3 linked regions of the Homo sapiens genome follow. The protein of the gene in region 1 interacts with the protein of each later gene in a biochemical or structural test. Each region holds a gene or a part of one and is shown in the gene's direction. Other genes may lie near its edges.

Region 1 (3,500 bases):
GATATACCTCTTTTGCTTATCCATTCATCTGTCAGTGGACACTTAGGTTGTTGCCCTCTTTTGGCTATTATGAAGAATGCTGCTATGAACACTGGTGTACAAGTATCTGTTCAAGTCCCTGCTTTTAATTCTTTGGGGTATATACCTAGGAGTGGCATTGCCCAGCACCTACTTTTCAACACAATTTTGTGGTCTACTGCTCGTAGTCAACACATACGTAGGAACCTGTCATAAAATGAGCAAATGTCTCAGGGCATTCCTTGAGGAGAATGCTCCCTCTCTAAGCCAGCTGCTGGTGCTAGTGATTACAACGAAGAGAAAGCTACAAAGTTTGGCAAAGTGATGGTGCTGCCTGGGAATGGACTTTTTATGGGGGAAATGACATGCTTTGGAGATTGCATCCATGAGTTGGAGACTGGCAAAAGTTTTAGTGTGTATCTCTCATGAATGGCCAAGGTCTAGCATACCTTTTTAAAGAGTAACATGTGACACCATTACTTGCCATTAACTACTTTGTATGGATTTGTTTATCAGACCTCTGGTCATGGTGACAGCCCACTGGGAATAGGGTCCTATGGGACTGGAATGTGGCAAAGCCAACTTTGGAGGAGAGAGGTAGAGAGATGGGGCTGGAGTCCATGGAAGGCCTAGCTTGGGCTGTTACAGCACGGGGCCTGGACAGCATGAGAGTTCAAAAGATCTGTTTGGAAAGTTCATGCTCTTAAAGAAAGGTGGGAAGCACAGAGCTTGAATTTCATCTACTCCTCAGTTTTTGCCAGGAGTGGACTATTATTTACTGAGTCCACACCTCAGCAAATAATGCTTTCCAGGGTGACCTTAGTTTTCTTCCCTGCCTGAAGAGAAGGTTAACACTCCTGCTTATATTTGCACTTGCAGATAATCCAACAAGCTCTCCATTCCAGGTAGAGGGTTGGCTCCTTTCCAGATCAGGTACTGAAGGCCAGGGAGTCTGGGTAAAATGGAGATGGATGTATCTGGCCAAGACTGCCAAGACCTCTAGGCATCCCGGGTGATGGAACCCTGCAGAGTTCTTGCCCCCACCTGGTGGGTGGGTTGGTTGGGAGGAATGAGTTTGGCCATGTCTGCACCTGGTGGTGGCTGTTGCGCTGTTTGCTCATCGTGATTCTGCTCCTACCTGAACTTTCTCTTCTTCTTATGTAAGCCATCCCTAGAGATAACTGTAAAGCCATAATCTGCCATGGCTGGCTGGGCTTATATAACAAATTGGTTGGTATCGTGCAATAGCCTCTTGAACCCTGGAGAAACCAATGTGCTAAGTTGAGACTAAAACATGGGTTCATTTGATGGGGTATTTTGTGTGCTCAGTGAACTCAGGGGAGAGGAGTCCATGACCACAGGGGTCAGAAAGATGAAATTTCCTTTTAAATAAAGAGAACAATAATGGCCCAGAACATACTGTGCTGTCCCAAAGTCTGCAATAATGGGACAAGGGTTAGGGCATTGCTGTAGCACCACAGCTTTGGCAGAAAAGGCCCTCCACAGAACCCCATGGGCTAGGAGGAGCCCCATGAAGGCCAGAAGGCTAGATCCCAGTTTCAGGGCAACCTAGGTTTGATGAAGAGTCAGGTCAGGGAAAATGTCTTTTGGAGGCCACTGTCTACCATGCTGAAATCCAGCTTAACTAGAGTTGGAGTGGGGCTAAGATGCGATCTGTGAGAGCAGAAAGCAAGCTTTTCTCGATTCTATTCCAGGCAGGAGGGAATTTCATCAGTAGGCAAGGCAAGTTCACTTGTACCTTCTAGCTGAAAATTCCTGCCCCAAAGTAGCTGTGGCCCTTCTGGAAACTGTATAAGAGGCATTAAGATCCCAGCCAGCACAGAAGACTGAATGGGAAGCTTCCCATTGTGCAGACACTAGCCCGAGGGAAAACAAGAGCTGGAAGCAGGCTGGATCACTGATGATCCAGGCTCACCATTGGCCTTCCTCTCCTGGGAGCCACTTTCCTCAAATAGGTCCAGCCAGAAATCGGGCCCCTGCCTATGGACAGAGCACACAGGGACCTTCCCCATCCTTCCTCGAAGGAAGACTTTACTCACAGAATAGGCTTGAGTATTCAACCCACTTCTTCTAATCTTCTCTTCAGGGGAGATGGAGAGCAGCTGTTCACAGCTTAGGGGTCTGGCCAGGATTCCCGCTCCGTGCTATCTAGGCTGGTGATTGGCTAGAGCTATCCCTAAGGAAGAAGGGGGTGAGAAGTGAGAGGAAAGGAAGCGACTCCAGCAGCTCCTTCCTGGCTTACCCCACTCCCAAGACACCCCTCCTTCAGCGCTGCCGTTTAGCCTCACTCCCAGACTAGGCTGGGCCTAGGCCAGCCTGAGGGCCCTGACTCATAACTAGCACATCTTATGTAACAGCCAGGTTACTGAGGCATCACACTTCTGCTTGCTCAGTGGTAGGCTTCCCTGGGGACAGGCATTTGGAAGCCTGCTGGGGGTCCAAGTCAAGCTCATCATACTTCCCAAGGAAAAGCCTACTCTCCCCAGTGTCAGGCAAGCAGTCTGCTCAGAGGCAAATGCCAGGCAGCAAAGCCTGACCCGGTCCCACACTCAGCCTCCACACTCAGCAGTAAATGTAAGCAGACAGGCAAGCTGGAGTGGACTTAATTTGGCTTGAGGCATTTTGGAGGTGGCAGGGAGGAACCTACTATCACCTGATAATGCACTGCTAAAGAAACTGCGTGGTGCATGGAGAGGCCCCAGAACAGGTCGCAGAAGTCCCTCTTCCTTTTGTATCTGCTTGTTGGTTCAGAAACTACTGGGTGGGTTGGGGTGGGGGGAGTTGTTGGGGGGGGGGCGGAAACTCCAGGCTGACTGACACCAGGTGAAAGGGTTTACCGGAAGGTGGAGGAGCTGTTTAAAGGAAGGCCTTTCAAGAGCCAATTCCCAGTCCACGCTCCATGAAGTCTCAAAGTCCCCAGGTTGACCTGAATTCACAGTGATTCTTAGCTCTCTGCCTGGCCTATTCAGAAAATTACATTACCGGCTTAGTGGAACTGAGCCCCCAGTGAAGTCAGTATTGCCAGATTCTATGACAGATTTCTCTAATAACAAATGTGACTATCTACAGCACAGAATACCCCCATCAATCTAATATTCCACTAGCTCAAGGTTTGTAACTAAACCAATAGCTCCTCTTCTTCTCTTCCTTTGTCTTTTCCCCAGCCTGTCTCACGTGTGTTGCCATCAAGTAAATGGCTCACAGGCTGTGAGTAGGTGGGGACACTGCTCTCCACTCCAAGAAATAGAGGAGAAACAGGGAAACAAAGTCAAAAAGGTGGTGTGGGAATTACCAGCAGGCATGATTTGTATCCAAAGCTGACTCATAAGTTCTTGGACAAGCTCAAGACTACCATCTCAGGGCTCAGAAGAGCTTGGCACCCTTAGTCCCCCAGATCACAGAATCCAGTGAAAATTAGGGGACCTGAGATGGAGATGCAGAATTTTCCTTTGTGGGACTCC
Region 2 (3,500 bases), on another chromosome or scaffold:
ATTCTGAAACTAGCTAGGTTTGGTGGCATTCATACTCCAGAATGAGCAGGTAGGAGTAGGACTTGTTATCTGTCAAATTGAGATTGACATACTGTGACTGTGATTCAGTAAGGAAAGGAGCAAAAGGATATGAAAACAAGAAGATTTTTTGCTTTTCGCTCTTAATAGTATTATCTACTGGGGTTGCTAGTAGACACTGCTCTGTATTTTGTTGAATATGCTGAATGAGCCTTTGACATTGAGAAGGAGCAGAAAGCACCGTTGATGCTATTTTCTTCACTTCAAACTGGAGAAAACTTAGTTGTTTGGACTTAAAATTGTTTGAATATAAAATCTTGAAAGATTCTTGTTTCTTTCAGGAGACAATATATTTCATATAGATAAAATGTTATTAAAGAATTTAAAGTTTACATTAAAAGTACATGGTCCAAACTGCCTTTTAAAAACTGTAACTAGGTATATGAAAAGTTTAAAAGTTTTGTCCTTTTTTGACAGTACTAGAGAAACCAAGGGAGTGTTATTATTAGACCATGATGAAAATGTTTTTGCTTTCATGGTCACTTACGTATTGATTTTGTGATGAGAGCTTGAGTAGCACAAATGGCACAAGCTTTTAAAATTTATCTTATTTTTGTCCCCCACCCTTTTTTTTTTTTTTTTTTTTTTTTGGAGACAAGTCTCTTTCTGTCATTAGGCTGGAGTACAGTGGCATGATCTCGGCTCACTGCAACCTCTGCCTCCCAGGTTCAAGTGATTCTCCTGCCTCAGCCTCCCGAGTAGCTCAGACTACAGGCACACACCACCACGCCCAGCTAATTTTTGTAGTTTTAGTAGAGATGAGGTTTCACCATCTTGGCCAGGATGGTCTCGATCTCTTGACCTCATGATCTGCCCACCTCGGCCTCCCAAAGTGCTGGGATTACAGGCATGAGCCACCACGCCCAGCCTTTTTTTTTATTATTATTTTTTAAAGACAGGGTCTCGCTCTGTCTCCCACAGTGGAGTGCAGTGGCATGATCACAGCTCACTGTAGCCTCGACCTCTCGGGTTCAAGTAATCCTCCTACCTCAGCCTCCTGAGTAGCTGGGACTACAAGTGTATGCCATCATGCCTAGCTAATTTTTGTATTTTTTCTAGAGACGGGGTTTCAGCATGTTGCCCAGGCTGGTCTCGAACTCCTGAGCTCAAGCAATCTGTCCGCCTTGGCCTTCCAAAGTGTTGTGGTTACAGGTGTGAGCCACCGCATCCGGCGGCACAAGCTTTTGAGTCTAACAGACATATGTCAAAATCTCAGTGTTGTCATTAACCATAACCACATCTGAGTTTTCGTTCATGCATCTGAATAAAGGGGATATTACCTTCCTTGCATTGTTCTTATGAGGCTTGCTGACATAACCTGTGAAATTACTAAGCACAAGTGCCCACCTCATGGAAAAAAGGTGCCTAATTACTCACTTTTCTGTGATTTATTCCTTCTATTTTAGTCTTTTATCTATGCATTTTCAAGATGGAATGTTTCCAGAGAAGCTGTGTGTGACATAGTTTGTGAAATGTTATACTGTAGTTTGAAAAATATTATTTTGATATAGCTAGACACAGGACCAGTATTTCCTAGAAATGCACACTGGGCCGGGCGCGGTGGCTCACGCCTGTAATCCCAGCACTTTGGGAGGCCAAGGCAGGTGAATCACCTGAGGTCAGGAGTTCGAGACCAGCCTGGCCAACATAGTGAAACCCCGTCTCTGCTAAAAATACAAAAATTGGGGGAAGGGATAGCATTAGGAGAGACACCTAATGTTAAATGACAAGTTACTGGGTGCAGCACACCAACATGGCACATGTATACCTATGTAACAAACCTGCATGTTGTGCACATGTACCCTAAAACTTAAAGTATAATTAAAAAAAAAATACGAAAATTAGCTGGGCATGGTGGTGTGTGCCTGTAATCCCAGCTACTTGGGAGGCTGAGGCAGGAGAACCCGGGAGGTGGAGGTTGCAGTGAGCCGCCATTACACCTCTGCACTCCAGCCTGGGCAACAGAGTGAGACTCCATCTTAAAAAAAAAGAAAAAGAAAAAGCACACAGGAGCCTGTATGTTTATTGGCAGGTCAGTATTATTCACATTCAATAATCATTCAAATCCAGTTATTTGGAATATTGTTCCCTTTATTCTAGGTAATGTAAAACAGTTGAGGAAAATGTGACTGGGAAAAGTTCAGTTTTAGTAGCTCTGAGTTTGCAAAAGCAAGGCATGCTGATTGTCTCTGTAAGATTACTGCAAGCCTAAAAACCAGTCTTTCCCTGCTTTTGTTTAGATTGTTTCCAAATTCCACTATTGGTGATAGTGGAGTCCCAGCACTACCTTCTTTGACTATGCGTCGTATGCGAGAGTCTGTTTCCAGGATGCCTGTTAGGTAATTTTTTACCTATAGCTTTTCTTTTAGAAAGTTATTTGGGGTGGTGGGGTTGGAAGCTTGAAGACAAAAAATAAGAGTTTCTTCGCATTCCCTCCTCTCTACGTGGAAACCCCTTGCTGCTTCTGTGGAACTTGATACTGGTGGTACAGAAAAGGTAGAAATTTCTGTTTATGGACCTGTAGGTCTTACATTCTGGAAAGTGACTTTGACTGTAGCTTCTTCTGTTATCATAGCATATTTCTTAATATGTCATTACATTTTAAAGAGCTTGAGATTCTGCTTTCCTCAGTATGTACTGAGTTCAACCTCAATGGAAAGGGTCCTAAAACTTAATACAGTGATTTGATAAAAATAAAACCCTTAACTTTGAAATGCATGTTGTGGCCGATGCATTTGCTAAAACCATGTATTTAAATAGACTAGTGTCTTTAAAAACATTTAATTAGATTTTCAGCATAAATATTGTTTCTCATGTGTCTCTGAGTTTGCATATAACTTGTCTTTCTTTACTCTGTTTTCCAGCTTTATAATCAGTTTTGTTGCGTTTATCTACTGCTCAGTGTTAACACACATGAATTTGAAACCTAAAGTAAAATCTACATCCAAAATATCTTACTTTAGGCCAGGCACGGTAGCTCACACCTGTAATCCCAGCACTTTGGGAGGCCGAGGCAGATGGACCACTTGAGGTCAGGAGTTCCAGACTAGCCTGGCCAACATGGTGAAACCCCATCTCTACTAAAAATACAAAAAACTGGGTGGGTGTGGTGATATGTGCCTTTTGGCCCAGGTACTTGGGAGGCTGAAGCAGGAGAATCTTGAACGTGGTAGGCAGTGAGCTGAGATGGCACCACTGCACTCCAGCCTTGGTGACAGAGCAAGACTCTGTCTCCAAAAAAAAATATATTATGTATACACACACACACACACACACACACACACACACATAATGTGTAATCAGATAATGTTTAATGTGAAAATACTATGGAAATATTAAACGCAGCATATCTTAGAATAAGGAATTTGCATATATCTGGATATATATTTCTGTATGGCTTTTATTTTTCTTGATAATTTGAA
Region 3 (3,500 bases), on another chromosome or scaffold:
TCTCTACTAGAAATACAAAAAAAAAAAAAAAATTAGCCAGGCATGGTGGCAGGCGCCTGTAGTCCCAGCTACTCGGGAGGCTGAGGCAGGAGAATGGTGTGAACCTGGAGGCTGAGCTTGCAATGAGGCGAGATCGCGCCACTGCACTCCAGCCTGGGTGACAGAGTGACGCTCTGTCTCAAAAAAAAAAAAAAAAGTGTGCTTTAAAGTGCATTTAAAGCAAAACTACTAAAACGTTTACATGTGGCTCTTAATAGTTTTTACCTGTGACTAGGTAAAAATTAATAGGTTTCCTGATAGGGGAAAATGACCATTTTTCATTCAATATAAGTCACCATTAGGCTTCTTCACTGGCTCTTGTGCTTCTTGTCAAAGGAAAAGTAAAGTTAGTGACTCTTCACTGCCTGTTAATATAAAATAACTAGTATGAAGTGTGATTGTAGATTTACATTTAAAGGATGTCTTCTTGAAACTTTCATACCGTTTTGGGGTCATTGGTATCCGTAAGGTCATTTTGCCTGTAAAGCTTGATTCTCGCAGACTTTTGGCTGATTGTTCCTTGTAGTCATCACAAATCTATGAATAAAACCAGGAATGGGACATTGTAGCTTGTCAGTCCTCTTTTCAAACCCTGCTTAACAGTCATATTCAAGGAATTACTTATTTTATGTTTATAAATAGGATCTGCAAAGGACACAGCACAACAGGATTAGTAGCTGTGATTTTTTTTTGGAGACAGAGTCTCACTCTGTCACCCAGACTGGAATGCAGTGGCGCGATCTCGGCTCACTGCAACCTCCACCTCCCAGGTTCAAGCGATTCTTCTGCCTCAGCCTCCTGAGTAGCTGGGATTACAGGCGTGCACCACCACACCCAGCTAATTTTTGTATTTTTAGTAGAGATGGGGTTTCACCATGTTGGTCTGGCTGGTCTTGAACTCCTGATCTCGTAATCTGCCAGCCTCGGCCTCCCAAAGTGCTGGGATTACAGGCATGAGCCACTGCGTCTGGCCAGTAGCTATGATTTTTTTTTTATATCCTAAACTCTTTACTGTATCATTTGGTTACATATGTTGAGACTCTCCAGTGTGTTAGAGACAAAAACCCTGAAACCGCCACCATTGATACTTCTATCCCTTCTGATTTGGGGACTCTCAGAAGACTATACGTCCATTTTTCCCCTACCTTACCACCAGTCTGATTAATGGGCAGTGATTCTGGCTTCCCTAGTATGCCTTCTAGGTGTCAAACACACACCCAATGGCAACTTTGATTTGAGAATTAGAAACTGCTAAGATTTGAACTCTTGATTATCTGTTGTAAAGGTTCTCTAGTAACTATTCTTAATGGAAAATGATACAGTTCTCTAAATAATTTGGATTATTTGACAGTTAAGCATTCTTCCCAAATACCTTTCACTAATCTAAGTACATTTCTGTGACCATCTGTCATGATCAAATTCCTCTCCCCACCCACCCTCTAGAAACACACTCAAAATAGTCCAAGTGCACCGAGTTAGGATTTTTTATGAAAATATTCTCTTTAAGCCTTTTTCTCCTTTCATTCTCCTTCCCCCAACATAGACAACCACTCTATCGTGTTTGGTATGGATTGTTTTATTTGTGTATGTTCCCATAAAACATTATTGGAGGGTTTTATGTATTTTTATGTTTTTAATTATTATACATATCATGTATATTCATAGTTTTAAAAATGGTACAGAAGAATCTACATTGGAAAGTCAAAGTTGCCCACCCTGACAATGCCCAGGTCTGCTAGCACAAATGTCACTATTGTGTTTATAGGTAGTTTTTCAAGTACTGGATACAAATGTACGTATACTTGAAATACATAGATATTTTCATATACTCTCACATACAATCCACATTATATTAAATGTACTTCTCTTGCCTTGCATTAACCTTTAAAATTTTTTTAATTTAATTTAATTATAGATTCAAAGGAGGTTACAAAAACGTACTAGGAAGTCCTAGTATTTACTGCAAGGAAACCAGAGGTCTCTTCACCCAGTTTCCCCCAATGGTAACATCCTGCATAACCTCAGAACAGTGTCAAAACCTGGAAATAGACGTTGATACAATCCACAGATCTTAATCAGATTTCACCAGTTTTACACACACTTGTGTGTATCTGTATAGTTCTTTGTGCATATATTTTTTAAATGCCTAAGTGGCATTGTGCTACATGTTACTGTATTTCTGCCTTCACTGCTTATCCACACAGTTCTACATATAGCTAGTTTGTTGTTTCAGCTCCTGAAGAGAATCTAGTATGGGTCTTTCACCTATAACATCCTTGTTTCCTAGTAGTAGACATTTAACCAACTTCTAACTTCCTACCTCAGTAGATAATACTGCAGTGACTGTCCTCACTTATGTCCTCTTGTGGATTTGTGTCAGAATTTCACCCAGATACATCTGCAAGAGTTGGGTTGCTGGGACATTTGTATATTTGGCTTTCCAGAATGTCTGTGTAAGTCCCCATGCCCACAGCCATAGCATGAAGGTATAATTGTTTAAGATATAATCCTTGGATTTAAGAACTAGAAGGTTTATATCATGGAAAACCATTGATTGGACTGTGGAAGAAAATATTAAAAAAAAAAAACCTCTCCGACTCATAAGATATTTTTTAATTAAATTCAAGCTACAGATAATTTATAATTCCTGAATGGTATACTATCTTATAATTTCAGATCCTTTTTTCACAATCTCATTCTCTTTCCTTTTCCCATCTCCCCAAGTAGCATTTCAGAAAACACAGATTAGTAAACACAGTTTCCATTGACTTATTTTTGAGAAGAAGGCTCTTGGCAACAATATCTAAAGTTTTGAGGACATCACTTCATTTCAGGCCAGGTTGATAGTCCTAGAAAATGAAAGAAATAAGGGCAAGTAATAATTTGGCAAAAAAAAAGGGTCTTGTATAGTAAATAATCACTGTAGTTGAGATTTAGACTACCCTCCCATCATTCATCCTGCCAGTTATCATGTGCTGTGGTCACCTACACAGCTAGGAGGTTGGTGGCTCACCTGCTGCTGTAGCCAGTAACTGCTCAATGAAAAGGGAATTTTAGGCAAATTGTCACAAGACTGGCTGGATGTCATAGTTAGGCTCCTGTGAAATAAACTGATTTGTATAAAGATACATTGCTGTTCTCTGTCAGTGAACTCAGTTATTTGAAAGATACGTTTGTGATTGTATTTGTCTTACTCATTTTTGAAAACACACAGTTTGCAAAACATCTTATTTGCATTCACCGAAGTAATACCTTGTGGGCAGGATAGTCAAATGGACTATTTAAGTACCTATTAGGTATCAGCAGCTCACCTTTTTTATTCAGCTGAGCCCCCTTGGTGAGATACTTGTATTATCCTGGTTATGTTATTTAGAATCTTATAATACCTTTTATGAAATGGGTGTAGGAAAGCTATATTGACTGGTCTCAGGAGCCAGTCCATGGGACAGTATTTTTTAATT

The links. Proteins that work in one complex are often made in the same cells at the same time.
Region 2: the proteins of TSC22D3 (region 1) and RAF1 form a complex in vitro, tested with the Homo sapiens proteins (one study listed by BioGRID).
Region 3: the proteins of TSC22D3 (region 1) and NFKB1 form a complex in vitro, tested with the Homo sapiens proteins (one study listed by BioGRID).

What each region holds. Positions count from the first base shown.
Region 1 is NC_000023.11:107,765,788-107,769,287, reverse strand, and holds part of TSC22D3 (TSC22 domain family protein 3), read left to right. Parts: intron 1-3,500. UniProt on the Homo sapiens protein: Protects T-cells from IL2 deprivation-induced apoptosis through the inhibition of FOXO3A transcriptional activity that leads to the down-regulation of the pro-apoptotic factor BCL2L11.
Region 2 is NC_000003.12:12,605,118-12,608,617, reverse strand, and holds part of RAF1 (RAF proto-oncogene serine/threonine-protein kinase), read left to right. Parts: intron 1-2,318; coding exon 2,319-2,417; intron 2,418-3,500. UniProt on the Homo sapiens protein: Serine/threonine-protein kinase that acts as a regulatory link between the membrane-associated Ras GTPases and the MAPK/ERK cascade, and this critical regulatory link functions as a switch determining cell fate decisions including proliferation, differentiation, apoptosis, survival and oncogenic transformation.
Region 3 is NC_000004.12:102,602,359-102,605,858, forward strand, and holds part of NFKB1 (nuclear factor NF-kappa-B p105 subunit), read left to right. Parts: intron 1-156; exon of another isoform or gene 157-628; intron 629-3,500.